Homo sapiens: one gene and its partners. The protein of the gene in region 2 interacts with the protein of the main gene of each other region in a pairwise test. Each region holds a gene or a part of one and is shown on either strand. Other genes may lie near its edges.

Region 1 (6,786 bases), on a different chromosome or scaffold from region 2:
ACAGTTCTGAATCCTTAACAGTGAGGGATCAGGATATTTGTTGTGATAGAAACATAGGCAGTAGCAGTACAGAAATTTCAGTGTCCCAGTTGGCCATCTGCTATTAGGTTTCTGGACCACAGCATGACTCATGACTGCTTTTGTCTTCTTTCTATAAAAACTGCTTCAGACTATCTTTTAATTCTTCTCATGCAAAGTAGCAGCATTTGATTTATCGGTAGTGTGGGCAATCTGTGTGGTTAAAGAAAACAGTTCAGGAGTCCGTCAACCCACATTGAAGAACACCTAATCCTCCAGTGAGTGCCACTCAATCTTGCTGGTGTTAGCAACATACAGTAAGGTCATTTTGACTAAGGTCATCTAGGTTGCAAGGTTAGGCCTTTGGCATGCTGATCAGTAGTGCTAAAAGAAGCCCATATACTAGATAGAGGTTCTGCAATGAAAGAGGCTAATGCCAAATGCTTCCTCCCCTTTTCTTGACTCATCAGTGCCTGGACCAAGAGGCACCATGGATGTGCACCTCATCAGAAGAATGCACATAAAAGCAACAGCACAAGAAAACACTCAAGGCCACTAGTCTTGCACAAGTCATCTTGTTACACAATTAGGTGACATGCTTAATTCTCCCCAGCATGGGGACATTCTTCCTTTCTGCAACTTCACACACACAAAATCCCTGGAGCTGTCCCAAGTGTGTACAGTAATAACGTTCACATGGCTACTCCAAGCATCCAGTGATGGCAACCAAACGAGATGCAGTTACCACAGAGCAGTAGTCTGACTTTTGATAATCAGGAATAAAGAACCCAGTGGTGAAGGTGCTGGGTCACTGCCTCAATGTGGGGTACCTTGGAAACTGCCTGCCAAACACAGGTCAAGGTGGAACATACATCCTCCTGGGGAACGGCTGGTCAACCAGTCATGTCTAGGAGTTGAGAGTTCTACTGTGGGAAGAGGTGGCAACAGCTGATAACACAAAGCACTGTGTAGACCAAAGTGAAAGTCCACCATCAATTGCTGTTTCTAATTCAGGTGACTTCTGTTATATTATGGAACCAGTTAGACAAAAGCAGGTAGTTAAAGCTGAAAAGATATCATCAGTCATGGTTGGTTCATTCTGTTGGTAATGCCAATTGTTTTCACAGTCTCATGGGTGACAGGAAAAATTAGGACCCTAAGACTACTGGGAAAAACACGTGACACCCATGAGTGTACAGATAAGATTGAGAGAAGTTATTAGTTACATACATTCATAGACAAAAAAGGGAGGGTTCTGTAAACGAGGCTGGTCCACACAAGACTTGCACTACGGAGCAGATAGAACAAACAGGGTGTAAGGGGAATGCTTTGTAGTATCAAGAACGTGAGATGCTTCTTGGTTCTCATAAGGATGCAATTGGTTTGTTTAAATGCATCTGTGGAATGGTAGGCAACTGAAATATGTTAGGCTACAGACTGATAAGATCAAAATAGTATGTTATAATGCCATAATCCTGTAATATACAATTTATTGTAGTGCTAATTACACATAATATAAACTAGTTATGCATAATTCATAGTAACTTACAAAACTGTACTATACCACATATTATATAGCTACTTATACACATATAAGTATACATGTAGACATGCTATATATACAGATGATGCTATACTATATGGTATACTAGGGCACACCAATTTGACTATAAATGCAAAAGGCCCCAACAATACACTGGAAAATTGAACGTTATCAATATGGGTTGAGTGTTTCTTATCTGAAATACTTGGGAACGGAAGTGCTTTGGATTTCAGACTTTTAACATTTTGGAATATTTGCAGAAAACTTACTGGATGAGCATCCCTAATCCAAATATCAAAAATCCTCTAATGAGCATTTCTGTTGAGCATAAGACTGGTGCTCAAACAGTTTTTGACTTCGGAGCATTTCAGATTTGGTATTGGAATCTGGGGTTTACAGATGTTCAACCTGTAGATAAAATACTTATATTCCATGATGAAGACAAATTTCACCCAGATAACCATAATATATTTATATCTGAAAGCCAGTTAACGTAATAGACTATCAGTAGAATGCCAAAAACCACAAATCATCTCAATAGATGCAGAAAAAAACATGTCATAAGAGTTCAACACTCCTTTACCATGAAACAATAAATAAAAAACACAAGAAAACTTCCTGAGCCTGTTTGAGAATATTTATGAAAAATCCACAATATACTTGATGGTGAGACTGAATGCTTTCACACGCAGATTAGACAAGCATACTGTCCAATCACAGTTCTCTCTTCTTAATTCAAAGTAAAAAGTGGGCCAGGTGTGGTAGCTCATGTCAGTAACCCCAACATGTAGACAGGCTGAGGCAGGAGGATAGCTTGAGGCCAGGAATTCAATACCAGCCTAGACAATACAGCGAGATCCCATCTCTATAAAAAATTTTTAAAATTATATAATTAGCTGAGCATGGTGGCATGTGTCTGTAGCTCCAGCTACATAGGAGGCTAAGGTGGGAGAATCACTTGAGCCCAGGAATTTGAGGCTGCAGTGAGCTAAGACTATTATTACCACTACACTTCAGCCTAGCTGACAAAGTGAGACCCTCTCTAAAAACATAACATTTTTTAAAAAAGTGAACTATGCAAGTAACAGCCAAAACTCATGACAGAATAAAGGAAAGAAAATGAAAATAACAATGTACATGAGACTATATAAACTTCACATACATGCAAATTAATAACAATTCTTTATTAGCAAAGAAAACAGAAGAAAATCTTTACAACAAAAAAGTAGTTTTCCCATAAAAAGGTAGAATACACACACACACACACACACACACACACACACATGAACTCATTTTTCATTGGTCCATTAATTAGAGAACAATTAAACAACTACATGAAAATTAAAATTGCCTACTATTAGAAATACATTTCAACTTAGTCTAGGGATCCAACAAATTTTTAAATGAATAGACAAAAATTATGTTAACTGATGAGAAACAAAACACAGCCTATTAAGCTCATGTACTATGGCTTATAAAGTATCTGTGAAATTCTCAGCTCCATGATTCCCTGCAAAAAACTGAAAATCTAAAGTATAGACACCTTCTTTAACAATGAACCACTGATAAAAATATATTTGAAAGCGGCTGGGAAAATAAAGTGTTCTAACACATTTTTCGTATTTTATGACGTTCTTTCCCAGGACGGGTCCTTCTAAGTTTTAGAAGGGAACTAGGAAAATTGCATACATTCTAATCTTCCTTACATGTGTTGGGTTTCTCTCTAATTTGAGTTTTTAATTTTTTCACGTGTTCTAATGAAACTAGAATAACTGAAAGCTTTAACACACTTCTTACATTGACAGAGGTGTTTTGTTGTTGTTGTTTTTTACCACATATAAGCTCTTTCATGCTTTCGAAGGGAACTGGAACAACTGAAGGCTTTACCACATTTCTTACATTCATAGGGTTTTTCTCCAGTATGAGTCCTTTCATGGCTTCGAAGGGCACTGGAAGAAGTAAACGACTTACCACATTCCTTACATCCATAAGGTTTCACTCCAGTGTGAGTTCTTTCATGCTCACATAGGTTACTAGAATATTTGAAGGCTTTACCACATTGTTTACATTCATAGGGCTTTTCTCCACTGTGAGTCCTTTCATGGACTCTGAGGACTCTGGAACATCTAAAGGCTTTGCCACATTTTATACATTCATAGGGTTTTTCTCCAGTATGCGTTCTTTCATGTATTCCCAAGTAAGTGGAACGACTGAAGGCTTTGCCACATTCCTTACATTCATAGGGTTTCTCTCCAGTATGAGATCTTTCATGTTGGCGAAGAGAACTGGAAAAAGTGAATGATTTACCACATTTCTTACATGCATAGGGTTTCTCTCCAGTATGAGTTCTTTCATGTTCACGAAGATAACTTGAATAATTGAAGGCTTTATCACAATGTTTACATTTATATGTTTTCTCTCCAGTGTAAGTGCTCTGAGGCATTTGAAATACACTAGGAAAATCAAAAGGCTTCTCATACACTGGACCCTTATAAGGCCCATTACTAGTGTGTGTTACCATGTGTCTGTCAACACTGGTGAGAGAGATAAAGGCTTTCCCACATTGTTTGCAATGATATAACTTCTCTGGACATTCCTCACACTCAAATAGTTTGTTTCCAATGTGAGACAGGATGTGCCTATGAAGGGCTGAATGACATATGAAGACTTTTCCACACACACTGCATTCACATGGCTTTACTCCAGTAGAAACTTTCTTATTCAGATTCAAATTTGAATCCTGGCTGAAGGTTTCTCCATATTGACTGCCTTCTTTAATTTCAAACAGTCTCTCTACCACATGACTGCTGTAAAAATGATAAACATCATTAATGGTACATTTATTCATGGTTTACATTGCTACTAATACCATGGAAAATGCAAGTTTCCTGCCATATCTAAATTGTTTTAAAGTAAATAAATTAATTACTGTAAGATATGGGTCCCCCATAGCTATTATCATTATTATCATAATTGTGATAGTCACATGTACAGTATCTTGGTGGTGTTTCCAAGTAAAATATTCTGAAAATATTGAACATCAATGTTACATTCAGGTGTATTTTTTGCTAAGACTTTTCTGGAAAAAAAAAATTTCTAGTGGTTCTTAGTTGTTTTGTCTGTTTTAAAAACTTATGACATGCTAAGATTCCCTCAAGGGGCATTTTTGCTCTTGTGAATGCAAATTACCTTAGATTTCTCCCAGGATTTTTGAAGTCATCTTGGATATTCTGGTCTTCTGATTTGTTTCCTAAAAGGTACAACCATAAGATTATTCAAATGATTAGAAACTTTAAAAATTGCTAGATTCAAGGTTCACTATACACTGTGACCATAACTAATTTTTTTCACCAAAGTACTCCCTTTCCACATGCCAAATCAGGAAACATTCATAACCAAGAAACACTTGTTTTCTTCTTCTTTTCTTTTTTCTTTCTTTCTTTTTTTTTTTTTTTTGAGACAGATTGTTTCTTCGTTGACCAGGCTGGAGTGCAGTGGCTCAATCTCGGCTCACTGCAACCTCCACTTCCTAGGTTCCAGCAATTAACCTGTCTCAGGCTCCCAAGTAGCTGGGATTACAGGCGCCTGCTACCACGCCTGGCTAATTTTTTTATTTTTTTGGTAGAGATGGGGTTTCACCATGTTGGCCAGGCTGGTCTTGAACTCCTGACCTCAGGCGATTCACCCGCCTTGGCCTCCCAAAGTGCTGGGATTACAGGTGTGAGCCACCACGCCCAGCCAAAACACTTGCGTTGTAATCAACTACGTGAATAAGTGTTGTTATTCTTACCTACAGAAGCCAGGTTCCTGAAGATTTCTTGCATCACATCTCTGTAGAGATTCTTTTGAGAAGGATCCAGCAAAGCCCACTCCTCCTGAGTAAAGGCCACAGCCACATCTTCAAATGACACTGAATCCTAGAATATCGCACATATGTGGAGAGGAGGATGGCTTAGACAGACAGTACTAAGAATCTATACTCATCTCATAAAATCGTAACATAATTCTGCAGACTTCAAACATTTCTTCCATGACCTGGTCATCAGAACTTTACTCTCTGTCTGCACTTACTGCTGCCCACTCAACATTCTTCATGCTAAAATGAAACTATTCAGAAAGTCAACAGCAGAGTAGGAACACCTGTCTCATTGGCAGGTGCAGGGAATAAACTGTGCTGTAAGAAATGAGGTCACCCCTAATTTCTATGTGTAGATTTTATCTTAAGGGCCTCTCATAACGAAGTCATGCTATTTGTTGTGTATAACAGTTAGTATTAAGTCTTAAGACTACATATCCTTAGAAATACCTGCTCACAAAGTCTGACCTTTTGGTGTGAGAAAATAGATTTTTTTGACGGATCTCATCACCCTAAGTGAGTGGTTCACAATATGTAAACAATCTTATGCAAACAATATATTATTCGCTGAACTCCAGTTTTGTTTTGTTTCTGAAAGCCTACTACTTTACTCCATTCTTGCAGTGGTACCTAGGGGATCAGCTCTGAAAAACACTCTGAGCATTAAGTCTCTAATGAGCATTCTTGGTAAACAATATTTCTCATATGCTGTTACAACTTGTTAACTGGAGAAATGAGGCATCAACGTGATTATAATAAGAAAATATTTGGAAGCTTGCAAGTAGTTTACTCCAGACCAAATTAAACCCAGTTGTAAATAAGACTGATAATTTATCTTTAATAACAAACAAAACAATTTTAAAATTTCTATTGGATAACAACAAAGTGCAATGGAGTAAGTGGAAAGATAGTACGTGTGCTTAGAAGAAACTCAATGTCATCAAGATATCACCTCTTTCAAATAGCCTTAAAAAATTCCATCAATCCCCAAAACAGACACTTTATTAGCAACTGAAAACTACTTTTCCAAACCTAACAAAAAAAAAATGTCTAAGAATTGTCAAAGTCTTCCAAACAATAGGGCAATGGCTTCCTTACCATGTATCAGAATTTTCAAACTATAATATTCAGGACAGTATTAATGTGGAGATAAACAAATAGTCCAAAAGGGAAAAAAGTTTTAAATAAGCAGGAATTTATTTTTATTTTATTTTTTTATTTTATTTTTTTGGTGAGATGGAGATTTACTCTTGTTGCCCGGGCTGGAGTGCAATGGCGTGATCTCGGCTCACCACATCCTCCGCTGCCTCCCAGGTTCAAGCGATTCTCCTGCCTCAGCCTCCCGAGTAGCTGAGATTACAGGCATGTG
Region 2 (7,111 bases):
TCCCCACAAGACCTGCAGCATCTTTAACTTGCTGTGCTCATTTCCAGTCTTACCTGAAGCCAGCAGGGTCACCCAGCCCTCTTTGGCCTCTGCCACCAGAGATAGGCCTCTTGGAAGAGAGAAGGGGCAGAATGTGCTGGGCTGGGGAGACAGCACCTGCACACGCTTTTCAGGAATAGACGGGCCAGACAGATGGCAGCTGGGGCAGCCAAGGATACATCTCTCCATACACACAGCCCCTCCTCCCACCGACCAGAGGGCTCCTTGTGAGAGGAAATGAGATCATGTACTGCCGCTTCAGGATCTGAGACTCCCCACCCTGAGTCTAAGCCAAGCTCCTCCCTGGGCCCCTAGGGCCTCAGCGATCTCTGACCCCTCACTCCGCTGCTGACCCCGAGGGCAGCATCCTTCAGTACTGGAATGCTAAGCCAACAGCAGCAGCCCTAATCACTGCATACCCTCAGGGCCTATGCCCTGCTGACCTCCCGTAAGATTATCTGCTGCAGAGGGTGGTGCTCCTGTGTCAGGAACAAGGGTCCATAAGTGCTCCCACAATGTGGGGTGAAAGACCTGTGGGGCATCCTCTACAACGGGCTTCAGAGACTGCCGGTTTACAGATGGGGAAACTGAGGCCAGGACTAAAGATAAGGCCTTGCCCAGGCCCCAAGGCTCAGTGAAAGGCAAAGCCAGTATCAGCCCATTCTCAACCGACCCATGCTCCACTCCTCCAGCCATTCCCAATGAGAACCTGGGGCTGACCCTCAAAGGCCACGGCCAGGAGGACTGCAGCTCACGTGCCAACTTCCAGCTCCACTTGCAGTCCCCAGGGACCATCCCACCTCCATCTTGGTGATGGGGCCTCATCCTTCCTCAGAAGGCACTGGCCCCTCTTGCCCCCAAGACAGTCGTCTCAGCCTCACTTTTGTCCCCACAGCCCACTCCCCGTGTAGCCACCAAACCCAAGCTGGACCCTGCCTCCTTCAGGGCCCCACCCAGGCCTGCAGGACTCTCCTGACACTCCTCCTGCCCTTGGCTCAGCACCACAGTGAACATGCCCCTGCCCCAGGGACAGGCACGGGGTACTGCTCTCCCCTGATATCTGCCACATGCCTTCTAGGAGAATGAGGCTTTGCTCACACTGTTTCCTCAGGTTCCACAGACACCGAGGCCCTGGCAGGGCTCAATTAAAATATGTGCCAGTCAGTGAGAAAAGACACTCAGGTGCTCACTCAACCTTCCCTGAGCCTCCTGTTCAAGCCAGCGAGACTCTCCTCCCACCTGCCCCAGTGGATGGAGACTCCTGGCTCTCCTCCTCCTGCTGGGCTCAAACTACACAGGTTCCAGGCACCACAGCAACCTTCCCAAATCCTGCTTTGGCCACATCGTTCCCCTGGGCTCCCCAGTCCTCCACAACTCCAGGGCCTTAGTGTCAGGGCCATGAGCAGCTGGTCCTGTGGCCTTTGCCCCTATCAGGGCCCAAGAGCCAAGCTGGTTCCTCTGACTTCATGTTCACAAGTCATGCACGGACTTGGACGGATTCATGGACGGACACCACAGTCCCATTTCCAGATGTAGAGCCTGTGCCATGTACCAATGGCTGTCCATGGGTACCCAGGACTCCAACAGGCTCTGGTGCCAGGGACCACCCACCCAGACCCTCCCTGCGGGCACTCTGCTGTGAACAAGGCAGGGGTGTGGCAGCTGGGGCTACTGGCGGTGGTCTCCACCCCTAATTCTCAGACACGCACACCCTACCTCGAGTCTCCATGGAATATTTGGGGTTTGTGTTCTTATTACAGCTGGGCACAGTGCAGGCCCTGAGTGACACAAAACATTCCCAGGGCAGGGGGGAGTCCAATGACGAGGAGTGCCCCATGGGCATCAGCCCTTAGCCTCCACAAGGGGCTAACTGCACCCCTCCCTGACTGACCACTCCTCTGCTCTGGACTTGCTCATGGGACTCGCTTCATGAGTGAGACAGAAGCAAGCCAGAGGCAGTGGAACTTGTGGGTCCATCTCTCTCCCTTCTGCCACGTGGAGGACAGTGGCAGTGGAGTGCAGTGGAGGATGAGACCAGGAAAGCAAGACAGACCAGCCAGCTGCAGCGTCCCCAGAGGCCAGCCCAGCCCAGCCACCCACCAGGCACACCTGCTATGTGACACTGGTGGCACTGCTGCAGCCACAGACTAGGCCCCTCCTCACCCCCTCACCTCCTTCAGCTCCTGGGCCACAGAGGCCAGGCGCTCATTCTCCGACTGCGTGTTGGTGAGGACATTGCGCAACTGCTTCAGCTCCGTCTGCAGCTCTAGCACCTTCCGCACGTAGTACTGCTCCTTGGAGGCCGACTCCTGGATCAGGCTCTCCTCCCGGCTCTCTCCGTCAGCAGCCACCTTCTTGTGGTTTGTGTGTGCTTGTCCAAAGGCCTGCATCAGAAGACAAGACACTCGTGAGGTGGGCCTCCCAGGGGCGCCGAAGGATAGAGACCCAGCTCACAGGCGACATTCATGCTGCAGAACAACAGCAACAACAACGGGGACTGTGGGCCTGAAGGGAGGCCCCCTGACCTGGGAGGTGCATCTGTGGCGTGCACTGTGGTGTGCACATATGCAAATGCAACAAGCTGCACCCAAGGTTCATCTGCTTCACCAAAATAAGAGAAAGCCTGGTCTCTGAGGAACAGTGTCTGCACTGGCAAGACAAGTGCTGGAGTCAGGGAGCTACAGTGGGCATGTGTGACAGCAGCTGGGGGCCGGCAGAGGGAGCTCCCACACAGCCCCCACCTTCTCCCCACTCCAGATGGCACGCCGGCCACCACATATGAAAGGCAGAGGGAGTCTGTCCATCCTGCTGCCTGATGCTGGCTCATCCTTCACTCCTTCTGGGAGAGACCTGGGCTGAGCAGTCAGAGCCCCAGGCCCGAGGATGGCAGTGATGGTAAGAACTAGACAGAGGCCAGCACAGTGTACCACCCACTCTGCCCAGTTCCTGGCTCAGAAGCCAAGATACCAGCATGTTCCAGAGGGGTGAGGAACAAGGGGCGCGGGGGCTGCACGTGGCAAAGAAGTGCAGGGCCTTGGGGCTCAGGGAGGAGACCTTATGGGTGAGATCAACCAGAAAGGGGTGCTCACCTAGCCCAGGACGCCCACCTGCCCACGCACCTGAGAGTCGACAGCTGTGTCATGTCCATGCCCCAAAATCCAGGCCAGCCAGCCTCCCATCGTGTACACCCCAGGCGAGTGGCCCAGCCTCCAAGCAGGTGCCATCCCTCTCCTTCCCTCCCACTGCCCACTACCCCCACATAGCTGGCGTGGCAGGACAGGGCTTCCATGGGTAGAGGGCAGACGGGCCGCAGTGTGTCACCCCCAGCAGCCCGTCTCACTGGCCACTCCACCACAGAGCTCTTGCAGAAGACCTTATCTTTTTACATTAATCCTGGCTCATGGCAGAAAACAAGATCAAGAGAGAGGTGACTGAAAGCGGATGGCTTTGTTTTCCTAAAAGAGAAAAAGGAGCATTTTTCACTCATTTACTATTTAATATTAAATCTAAGAATTCAGTCCAAGAAAATAGGGAAAATGTAAAAAACCATGAATAAGGATGTTACTGAGCAGGACAGTTTCTAATTTCAAGAAATCAAAACAAAGAGTAACTCATTTCGTCCCAACAGGAGACTGGTAAAAGAAACCAGGGTCTAGTCTGAGTATAGACTCTCATGGGACCAACAGGGGACTCAAGGGGAAGACAGACTGATTGATCTTACAGCACTGTGAGGATCACAGGATCCTGCCTGGAAGAGCACACATGTGCTATGGCAGGTGTGGTGACATGTGCTGTGATGTATGTGTTGTGTGTGTGTGTCTCGTGGTGTTGCGGGGGACACCCCTAAACAAGGCTAACAGGACAACACAGCCCAGCAGGAAGACTGGTGCTGGCAATGGGACTGCACGGGGGGACTCGGGATTGACATGGACACTCCTGCTGCGGATGCACAGATGTCTATGGCACCCACACTCCTGAGGAGGCTGGGTCTTGCTCACCTGCCCCCACCCATCAACACAACACCCACTACGTGGAAGATGTCCGCTTTTCTTCAAGGCAATCGGGTCAGCTCTGTGATTTCTGCTCTGTTCTTCCTTATCCTAGTCCCAAGGAAGGTCCAAATCATAATGTCTACACAGCACCTCATCCACCCTGGCCAGCCACCCCGGGCCACAAGAAGGGAAACCGGACATGGAATTGGCCCCAGCTGCAGGCTCCCCACCCAAGTGGCAGCCAGGCCCCAAGTCCCTCATTGGGTGAAGGGCCCGCCGGCTGCAGGCGGCATGGGCAGCGCCAGACCATCTGGGCCTCCTGACAAGCAGGAGGGACCCAAATGAAGGGTCCAGCACACATGGCTGCTCAGAACACACCCACGAGCCTGGAGCTGGGGATGCAGACATCACCTCAGAAGCTTCCTCCAGGTATGACAGCTAAATGCCATGACACGACATTCAAGTCCTAGCCTCCTGGCCTGAGCCCTGGATCTTTTCCTCTGCTTAAGCTCCCAGCCTGGGGCCCAAAACACTCCTGGGCAGCTTTTCAAACACACTGAGATACAGACTTCCGCGTACAGCCAAGATGAGATTGTTGCAGAAATTAGAACTACCTTCTGTGTGAAAACTTAAAAAAAAAAAAGAAAAAGAAAAAAACCAGGCAATGATAGAATATAAATAAATAATAAGCAGTGGTTTTCACATCATGGGCACTAGATAGTGAGAGACAGGAGGAGGGGAGTTCCAGGAGCCCCCTCCACCAAAAGAACTTCCCAGCCATGGAAAAATGGGAGACTGAGGCAAGGCGTGGCAGACCCTGTCAAGGAGGGACTGGAAGATGGCGGAAGATGGCAGCAGGGCAGCCAAGCTAGGCAGACCTGCACACAGGGCCAGAATCTCCACTGAGGACCAGGGAGCACAGAGCTGAAGAAGTCACTGAAGGACCACTGAGGGGGCAGAGAAAGCAATCCCCACCATTTATACCAGCCAAAAACAGTACCTGCTCCCAACAGCAGAGGAGAGCCCTCCTGATGCACAGGCAGCTGGGGAGCACTCCCAGGGCCTGAAAAAATTAGTCTGGATTAAATCTGCTCTGATACCACAGAGCAAAGCATAAAGACAAAACCTGAAAGGATCAATCTGATTCCAAGTCACTTAACTACATCCCAGAACAAAGCTCAAGAACACATGAAGGAATACAAAAACATCCATCTCCCAACAGGTGAGGTCCACTGGCTGGCATCCCGTCACTTACCACTGAGCAGGCAAAGGCGCACAAATGAGGAAGACAGAAAAAGATCCAGATAGAACTTCTAGAGACGAAAAGTACAGTGGATGGGATTCACAGCAGATAAAACAATGCAGAAGAAAAGATCAGTCAACTTGAAAAACCACAGCAAACTATCCAAAATGAAACACAGAGAAAAAAAGGCTAAAAGACAAAAGCAAGACTCAAACAGAGCATTGGTGAAGTATGAAGTATGACACAATTTCAAGAAGCCTTATGTAAGGAGTAATTGGAGTACCCAAAGGAGAAAAAGGGGAAAATAGAAAAAGTAATTGAAGAAATAAATCATAGCTGAAAATTTTCCAAATTTGATGAAAATTATAAACCCACAGATATCAGCAGCTTGTCAACACCAAGCACAAGAAATATGAAGCAAACTACACCAAGGCATAATATAAAATTGTTTAAAACCAATTATATAATAAAAATATTTAAATCAGCCAGAAGAAAAAGGATACATGACTCAAGAGGAGCAAAGATAAATGACAGCTGATTTCTCTAACAAGCCAGGAGATAGTGGAACAACATCTTTTAAACAACAAAACAAAAAAACTTAACTAGAATGCTATACTCACTGAAAACTGTTCACAAATAGAGGTGAAATACTTTAGAGATACAAAAGCTGAAAGAATTTATCAACAGCAGATATGCATTGGTATTTAAAGATATGCTAAATAAAATCCTTCAGGCAGAAGAAAAATAATACCATATGGAAATCTTTATCTACATGGAAGAAATGATAATTAAATAGGCAAATATAAAGTACTTATTTTTCTTATTTAAATCTCTTTAAAAGATAATTAACTTGAAATTCAATGCAATCCCTACCAAAATTCCAAAGCCTTTTTAGCAGAAATGGAAAAGGTGATTTTCAAATTCATATGGAATTGCAAAGGGCCTAGAAGAGCTAAAACAATATTGAAAGGGAATAACAACGTGAGAGAACTCACAATTTCAAAACTTAATACAAAGCTACAGTGATCAAAACAATGTGGTACTAGTGTAAAGATAGATACAGAGACCAACGGGATAGAATAGAGTCCAGAAATAAAACCTCATATATATGGTCAATTGATTTTTGGCAAGGGTACAAAAATAATTTGATGTCAAAGAATAGTTTTTCGGCCAGGCACGGTGGCTCATGCTTGTAATCCCAGCACTTTGGAAGGTCGAGGCGGGCAGATCACGAGGTCAGGAGTTCGAGACCAGCCTGGCCAACATAGTGAAACCTCGTCTCTACTAAAAATAAAAAAAAATTAGCTGGGCGTGGTGGCGGGTGCCTGTAATCCCAGCTTCTTGGGAGGCTGAGGCAGGAGAATGGTTTGAACCCAGGAGGCAGAGGTTGCAGTGAACCGAGATCACGCCACTGTATTCCAACCTGGACGACAGAGGAAAAAAAAAAAAGTTTTTCAACAAATGATGCTGGGGCAAGTAGATACATATATGCAAAATAATGAAGCTGAACCCCTACCTCACATTATACACAAAAATTAACTCAAAATGAATCAAATACCTAAATATAAGAACTAAAACTATAAAACTTTCAGAAGATAGGCTGGGTGCGGTGGCTCATGCTTGTAATCCCAGCACTTCGGGAGGCCGAGGCGGGCAGATCACGAGGTCAGGAGATCGAGACCATCCTGGCTAACACAGTGAAACCCCGTCTCTACTAAAAATACAAAAAATTAGCCAGGCGTGGCGGCGGGCGCCCGTAGTCCCAGCTACTGGGGAGGCTGAGGCAGGAGAATGGCGTGAACCCGGGAGGCGGAGCTTGCAGTGAGCTGAGATCGTG
Region 3 (7,285 bases), on a different chromosome or scaffold from region 2:
CTAGGTTCAAGTGATTCTCCTGCTTCAGCCTACCAAGTACCTGGGATTACAGGCATGTCCTGCCACACCCGGCTGACTTTTGTATTTTTAGTAGAGACGGGGTTTCACCATGTTGCCCAGGCTGGCGTTGAACTCCTGACCTCAGGTGATCCACCTCCCTTGGCCTCCCAAGCGCTAGGATTACAGGCATGAGTCACCGTGCCTGGCCTCATGATCCTATTTCAAACTTAGATATTTTTGCCACATGTTCCTACCCTCTCTATTGCATTTTGTATCACAGTGCTAGATTATACTTCTGTTTCATTATTTCCCTAAGTTTCAAACTCTTTATACCGGGGTTTCCCAGCATTGGCTCTACTGACATGTTCCTAGCATTGGCTCTACTGACTTTGTTGTCTGGGGCTGTCCTGTGTGTTTTAAGAGGTTTAGCATTAGCCTTGCCCTCTCTACCCACTAGATACTAGCAGCACCTCCCCGAGTGATCCACTAGATACTAGCAGCACCTCCCCAAGTTATAACAACCAAAAATGTCCCAAGACATTGCCAAATGCCCTCTGGTGCACAAAATTGGCACTGGTTGAGAACCACTGTCTCATTTTAGTATTAAAAACAAAACAAAAACGTTCTACATAATTTGGTTCTCTTTTACATCTTACAATTAGTAAAGCTCATTTAGACTCAAGGAGAAAAGGTTAGGGGCATCTGTCCTACAGAATAAAATCTCAATTCCAGAGGTTGAGATTCAAGGTCCTGGACACTATCTCAACTCTGCTATTTGGAATTCACCTTTCCAACCTAACTGGGCTTTCTGCTACTCAAAGAAACACAGATTCCCCACCCTGCTCTCCTCACTAACTTTCCATTGTACTCCCACATCTCATTCCCCTGAAATAGTTAATGTCTTCATTTTAAAACCCTGTAATGGAGTCAGAGCAATGGATATATCTGCAAAACCTTAATTCTTAATTATTTGTATTGTGCAACAGAGTGATGCCCCTCCAAGAGACTGCTTCCCATCCTGCTACTGTCATCTCTTTGATACTTTCTCTTGTCTTAGAAGTTTTCTAAGATGAGCAGCATGTTTATCAAACAGAATTTTGTAGCTTAATAGAGAAATATAAAATCCTTCCACAGAAAAGTTATAAATAAGTTGGGACCACATTAGCCAACTTTCCGTGAAACTCATGCCCCTTTCTGATGCACCAAACTGTCAAAAACATGCTTTGTGAAAAAATGGCTGTTCTTCACTCTGGCCTAGAAATCCACAATTTATGTTTTCTCAAGCAGAAGTCACATCTTTTTTCTCACCTGCTCTCCTGGTTCATCCAGTTCTCTCTCTAAATCCTCCAGCACAGTCACCACCTCCTCCCCACTCTCTGGATGCTGCTCCTGCACCCAGGCCTGGAGCTCCTCAGGTAGGATGGTCAGGAACTGCTCCAGCACCAGCAGCTCCAGAATCTGTTCTTTGGTGTGGGTCTCTGGCCTCAGCCACTGATGGCAAAGTTCTCGGAGTCGGCTCAAAGCCTCACGGGGACCAGATGTCTCCTGGTAGCAGAACTGTCTGAAGTACTGACGGAAGACCTCTCTGCTATGGGTGTTGTTTTTACGCAGGTCCCAATCCTGTCTGGTGGTATATTTCTCTTCCTCTATCTTTACTTCCAAAGGTTCATCCTGGTCCATGTGGGCCTGGATAGCCCAAGTAGATGCCATTTTAGCTGTGCTAGAACTACCGGTGTTTCAAGTAAGATCTCACCTGGAAACTGTATTCCTGGACAGTCCTGAAGAATAAGCCATCATTATTAATACAAACTCCACCATAAAGTAAAACTGCAAATTCTGAGAACTTAACTATGACCTTTGAAATCTGACCTCCGGATTAATGTACAATACTTACTCAGAAAAATACTCTGATAGAAAAGACTTAAGATTAGACCGATTTAGGCCGGGCACAGTGGCTCACGCCTGTAATCCCAGCACTTTGGGAGGCCGAGTCGGGCGGATCACGAGGTCAGGAGATCGAGACCATCCTGGCTAACATGGTGAAACCCCGTCTCTACTAAAAATACAAAAAAAAAAAAAAAAAAAAAATTAGCCGGGCGTGACGGCGGGCGCCTGTAGTCCCAGCTACTCAGGAGGCTGAGGCAGGGGAATGGCGTGAACCCGGGAGGCGGAGCTTGCAGTGAGCCGAGATCGCGCCACTGCACTCCAGCCTGGGCGACAGAGCGAGACTCCGTCTCAAAAAAAAAAAAAAAGATTAGACTAATTTAAAGAGAAAGACTGAGGAAAGGTGCCAAGTTGTTTCAGGACTTAAGAGTAAGACTTGTTGGTAAACTTATTCTCATTTGGTCCTAAATGAAAGACAAATGGAATAAAACTAACATTTAGATCAAGTAAATAATAATAACAAAAGGTTAGGACATCCTTGATTAGTTACTTTTATCTTTTGAATGTCCAGATGTCTGGTGGAAACCATGAAATCACAAAAGCTACAGTCATGTAAATTTATTTCTTCAGGGACTTAATCTTTCTGCTCCTCATTCTTCATTTATAAAGTGAGAAGGCTGAAGAGGTTACTCTTTAAGGCTTCCCTCTAACCTCGTGGTCTGTGATTATAATCTGAAGTGAGGAAGGCCCAGGAAAGGGTCCCTAGGACGCCGGCGAGCGTCTGTGACCCACCACTGTCCAGAAATGTCGGTAAGCGCTGAACCCAAGGATACACAGCCCGAAGCAAACGCGGAAGGTATGGGCCTTACAGCCTGGAATTGCTGCAGAGACTGGGAGCCAAACCCTCATCCTAATGTCCCAACGCACTTTGGGGAGGGAGAGCTTCCCGCGGATCCGCCTGGGTTTGGGAGGACCGGGGTCCACTCTGCACCGGCCAGGGCCTGAGGGGCCCAGCAGCTGGAATACAGCAATCTCCCGCCCACCTGCTCGCAGCGTACAGAGCACAACATCGCTCACCTGCGGCCCCCAGGGCCAGAAGAGAACTCCCTCCTACGGAGCGAAGGCAAGAGGCCTCGAACCCTTTTGGGACCCGGAACCCATCAAAAGTGACCCACAAAGGCCGGAAGCGGCCACGGGGGGTCTAAGAACCAGCCCGCGCGGGGCGCACTTCCGCGGCCGCTCTAGGAAGGGAGCGAAAGGGGCTTTCAACTCGGTAGTGTTTCCGCGCGTCTACGTGAGAGGAAGGTTGATGGCTTTCAGGCCCGCTGGTAAATGGAACGGGTTTATCTTCTCCTCTTCTTTACCCAGCCATTGTCCACACTTCCCCCGACCCGATGGGTGGTCGAGGCTTGTAGAACTGATCTTAAGACAGGGAAATCCCTTGCGTCTCCATTCACTTTGGGATTCTGTGTCTCTGAGGTTAGAGATGCCTCAAAGGGATGTTCTCCGGGGGACCTTCCCAAATCCGCGCTTAGCGGTGGCGAAGGGACTTCTTCCACACAGACTTCTCAAGGGCCAGCCGGCTGGTTTCTGCCGGCTCTTTCGCCATCCACGATTCTTTTGATGTTCTCTTTTATGTGCTGATGTATGATTATATGTCAGAAAACCCGGTTCAATGGAAAAACTATAAAAAAAGGATAATTTAGTAAAATAGCAAGATATAAAGTTAACACACTAAAATCAACGACCTTCATATATGTGAATAATCAATGATAACGAGTTACGAGATATAATGGAAGAGAAGACCATATTTACAAGAGCAGCAAAAAAGTGAAACTAGGAATAAACTTAACAAGAAATGAACAAAACTTCTATGGGGAAAGCTTTAAAACATTCCTAAAAGGCCAAGTATACATTTAAACAAACAGAAAGCGATATGAGGTTCTTGGAAAGACTCAAAGAGGTCAGTCCTCCCTAAATACGTATGCAACTGTAGTATTCCAACAAAAATATCAACAAATATTGTTCTGGAATTAGATAAACTGATTATAAAATTCATGTGGGGAAATAAGAATAGCCAGGAAACCCATGAAAAAGAAAAATGGTGAGGGTCAACCTTATCAGATACTGGAACATACCCATATAATTTTAGTGTATTAACAGAGAGAAAGAATAGACCAGAAATGGATCCAGGTATGTAAGGATATTGAGTAAATGATGAAGGTGACACCACATATCAACAGGGAAATGAAGAACTTAGAAGTTGTGCTGGGATGATAACCGTTTGGCAAAGGTAAAACTGGATTTGTATTTCCCACCACACATCACAATAGAGATAAATTCTAAATGGATCTGAGATCTAAATATAAAAAATCCACCTATACATGTATTAGAAGAAAACATGAATAATAATTCTAACACGTGGGAATAGGGAAACATTATCTAACCATATGACTCAAAATCTAAAACCCATAAAAATAATAAATCTGGCTACATGAAAATAAAATGTATTGCTTGTCAAAAAAAAATAAGGAAAGAAAAAGGCTTGCAACATATCACAGGCAAGGGCTAGTTTTCCAAATACCTAAAGAGCTCCTAAAAGTTGAGAATAACCAATAACCCAATAGAGAAAATGGCCAAAAGAAATAAATAGTTGACAGAATAAGAAATGCTAGCAGCCCTCAAACATCTGTAAATATGTTCAACTTCACTCAAAATATGAACATACAAATTAAAAACTATGCTGACTGAGGCACCGTTAGTCATCAGATTGGCAATGGTACAAAAGTTTGACAGCATGCTCTACTCATGAGGAAGGAGAAACTCTTAACATTCTAGTGGGAATGCAAAATGGTACAACCCATAGGTATGAAAGATAATACTATACAGCAAAATTATATATGTAAGTTTACCCTTTGTTCCTGCAATACCACTTCTAGAAATCCATCTCAAAGATACTTTGACAAAAATATGAAGTGACACACACACAAGATTAAATGAGATCAGGAGAGGCCTGATTTTTAAAATGCCAAATATGAGGGGATGAAATTGAGAAATTCTCAGGAGGAAAAATGGATCAGGGCTTCATCATTGATTATGTGGGGGATAAGAGAACCAAAAAAAAAAAAAAAAAAAGCCTGGTATCGTCAGAGGATGGTGGTCCCTCCACCAAGACAGGGGACACTAAATGACAAGTAGCATTTTGAGAAGAAATTTATGAGCACAGCTTGGCCATGTTAAGTTCGAAATCCTAGGAAGCATTACACTGTAGATGTTGCTATTTGTTAATGGATTGGTTTAGGGATTTGTGGGTCTAGGAGTCATGAGAAGAGAGTTAGCTTGAGATCCATATTTTGGAGCCTTCCACCTTTCAGTAATGGTTAAAATGATTAAGATATCTCATGAAGTGTGTGGTGCTAAAAAACAGCCTAGGACAGATTTCTGGAGTGCCCTTTGCCCCCTACTGCCAGCCCTATAGATTCTTCTTTCAGGGCGTCTGCGGAGAAGGGAGAGAGAGATCCCTCCTCACACCGTGCCAGGGCTCAAATCTCACCTGAAGCCGTAGAACATCTCAGAAAACAACAGACAGAGAAATTATTGGACAACAACTTGAATTCAACCTGGAAGTGTCCCTCAAGCTCACTTTGGGGTCCTTTTCCAGGCATCTTGAAGGATTTTTGCAATGCAGTTGTTTTCCAAGTTCCACTTGGCATGACTTACTGTAAGAAGCTGATATGAAAGTCTCACTTAAAAAGTCAGCTTGCACCAAGGATGATTGACTTGGCATAGTTCCCAGGGACCTAGGTGAAACAGTCAACTTTTTGTCACAGATGCAATGTAGCCAGAAGAAAAGAGCATCTAAGCACAAAGAGAGCTTAAGACAGAACTCCGAGTAAAACCAATCTCCGTCTTTTGACACTAGAGAAACACAAGGATATAGAGACAAAGAGCAGACAAAATGGATCTCCAGAATACCTTTATTTTAAACAATTTTTGTCTAACATTATTACTAACACTTTTTGGCCATTTTACTAACAAAATAACTCTAACATTTAAAAAGGAGAAAGCTTCCTGTGATATATTGATAAGCCTTCTAACTGCACTTAAAAGGGAAAAAAAGCAGATGTTGAGATCTAGGACTCAAAGACTAAGAGAAAAGGTAAAACTGTAATATTGGAAGCTCACTTTGTTACTTTGTGAAAATGAAAGCATGTATAAACTTGATTAGCTCATAATTGTGCCAGGTTTATTTAGTGAGGTTGAAAGGGGATGGAGACAATTGAGAAAAAAGTTATTTGGGAAAAGATTTCAAAAAAAGGCTTATTTTTCCTTCAGACTTTAAATCTGAGGTGGATAAAGGTATTGTGGAAAATTAAAGATGACTACAAATTATTTGGCATTTCTCATCAAGATGTGGGGTCTATGTCACTTTCCCTTGAATCTGAGTGGGGTTAATCATTAATTTGACCAATAAAATACTGCAAAAGTGATGCTGTGGTTTCTGGCCTGAGCCTTTGGAGAGCAGCAGCTTTCACTTTTTGTCTTTTAGAACAATTGCTCTTGAAGTCCTGAGCCACCATGGAAGAAGTCTGCCAACCCTGCTTTCCAGTGACTGAGTTGCAAGAATCCTTCAAGATGCCAAAAAGATGACCCCAAAGTGAGCTTTGTGTGTCTCCGAGACCACATAAAGAAGCTCTGAGACCACATGGAGAAGATCAGCCCGGCTAAGCCCACTTTTCTGGCTGTCCCTGCCAAGGCACTTGGCATGGCAGTGAAGCTGTCTTGGATTTTCCAGACAAATTATACTGCCAGATGAATACCAGCATGTGATCTTAGTTGACACCACATGAAACAGAAGAATTTCTCAGCTAAGTCCTCCCCAAATTCCTGGCCCAAAACATGATGGTGTGTTTTTGTCCACTGTTTTGGAGTAACTATTTATGCAGCAATAGATAACAAGATCAGATGTTTACCAGATTGTAACAGTTTGATTAGACTATTTCCTAAGAATATTAACTTTCCTTCGTTTCAATGACATAGTCAACATGCAATTTTCAATTTGTAGTTGATATTTAAATTTCCAGTTAGGAAAAAGCTTGATGTTGAGGACTTGCACTAAATTTTAGGCCAGGTATAGCTCCAATTTTTATGGAAATTATTATGTATACAGTATAAGGTAATTTTTTATAGGCTATAGTTAACAATTTCTTTTTTATCTTTTTTTATTATTTATTTATTTTTTATTATACTTTAAGTTCTAGGGTACATGTGCACAACGTGCAGGTTTGTTACATATGTATACATGTGCCATGTTGGTTTGCTGCACCCACTAATTCATCATTTACATTAGGTATTTCTCCTAATGCTTTCCCCTATCCCCCCACCCCACGACAGGCCCCGG

The links.
Region 1: the proteins of BICD2 (region 2) and ZNF670 interact in binary tests that used the Homo sapiens proteins (3 or more experiments, as listed by UniProt).
Region 3: the proteins of BICD2 (region 2) and ZSCAN12 interact in binary tests that used the Homo sapiens proteins (3 or more experiments, as listed by UniProt).

What each region holds. Positions count from the first base shown.
Region 1 is NC_000001.11:247,034,060-247,040,845, forward strand, and holds the end of ZNF670 (zinc finger protein 670), read right to left. Parts: intron 5,479-6,786; coding exon 5,352-5,478; intron 4,812-5,351; coding exon 4,751-4,811; intron 4,369-4,750; coding exon 3,390-4,368; 3' UTR 578-3,389; downstream 1-577. UniProt on the Homo sapiens protein: May be involved in transcriptional regulation.
Region 2 is NC_000009.12:92,726,814-92,733,924, forward strand, and holds part of BICD2 (protein bicaudal D homolog 2), read right to left. Parts: intron 2,424-7,111; coding exon 2,211-2,423; intron 1-2,210. UniProt on the Homo sapiens protein: Acts as an adapter protein linking the dynein motor complex to various cargos and converts dynein from a non-processive to a highly processive motor in the presence of dynactin.
Region 3 is NC_000006.12:28,396,696-28,403,980, forward strand, and holds the start of ZSCAN12 (zinc finger and SCAN domain-containing protein 12), read right to left. Parts: upstream 3,053-7,285; 5' UTR 2,962-3,052; intron 2,072-2,961; exon of another isoform or gene 1,895-2,071; intron 1,779-1,894; 5' UTR 1,711-1,778; coding exon 1,309-1,710; intron 1-1,308. UniProt on the Homo sapiens protein: May be involved in transcriptional regulation.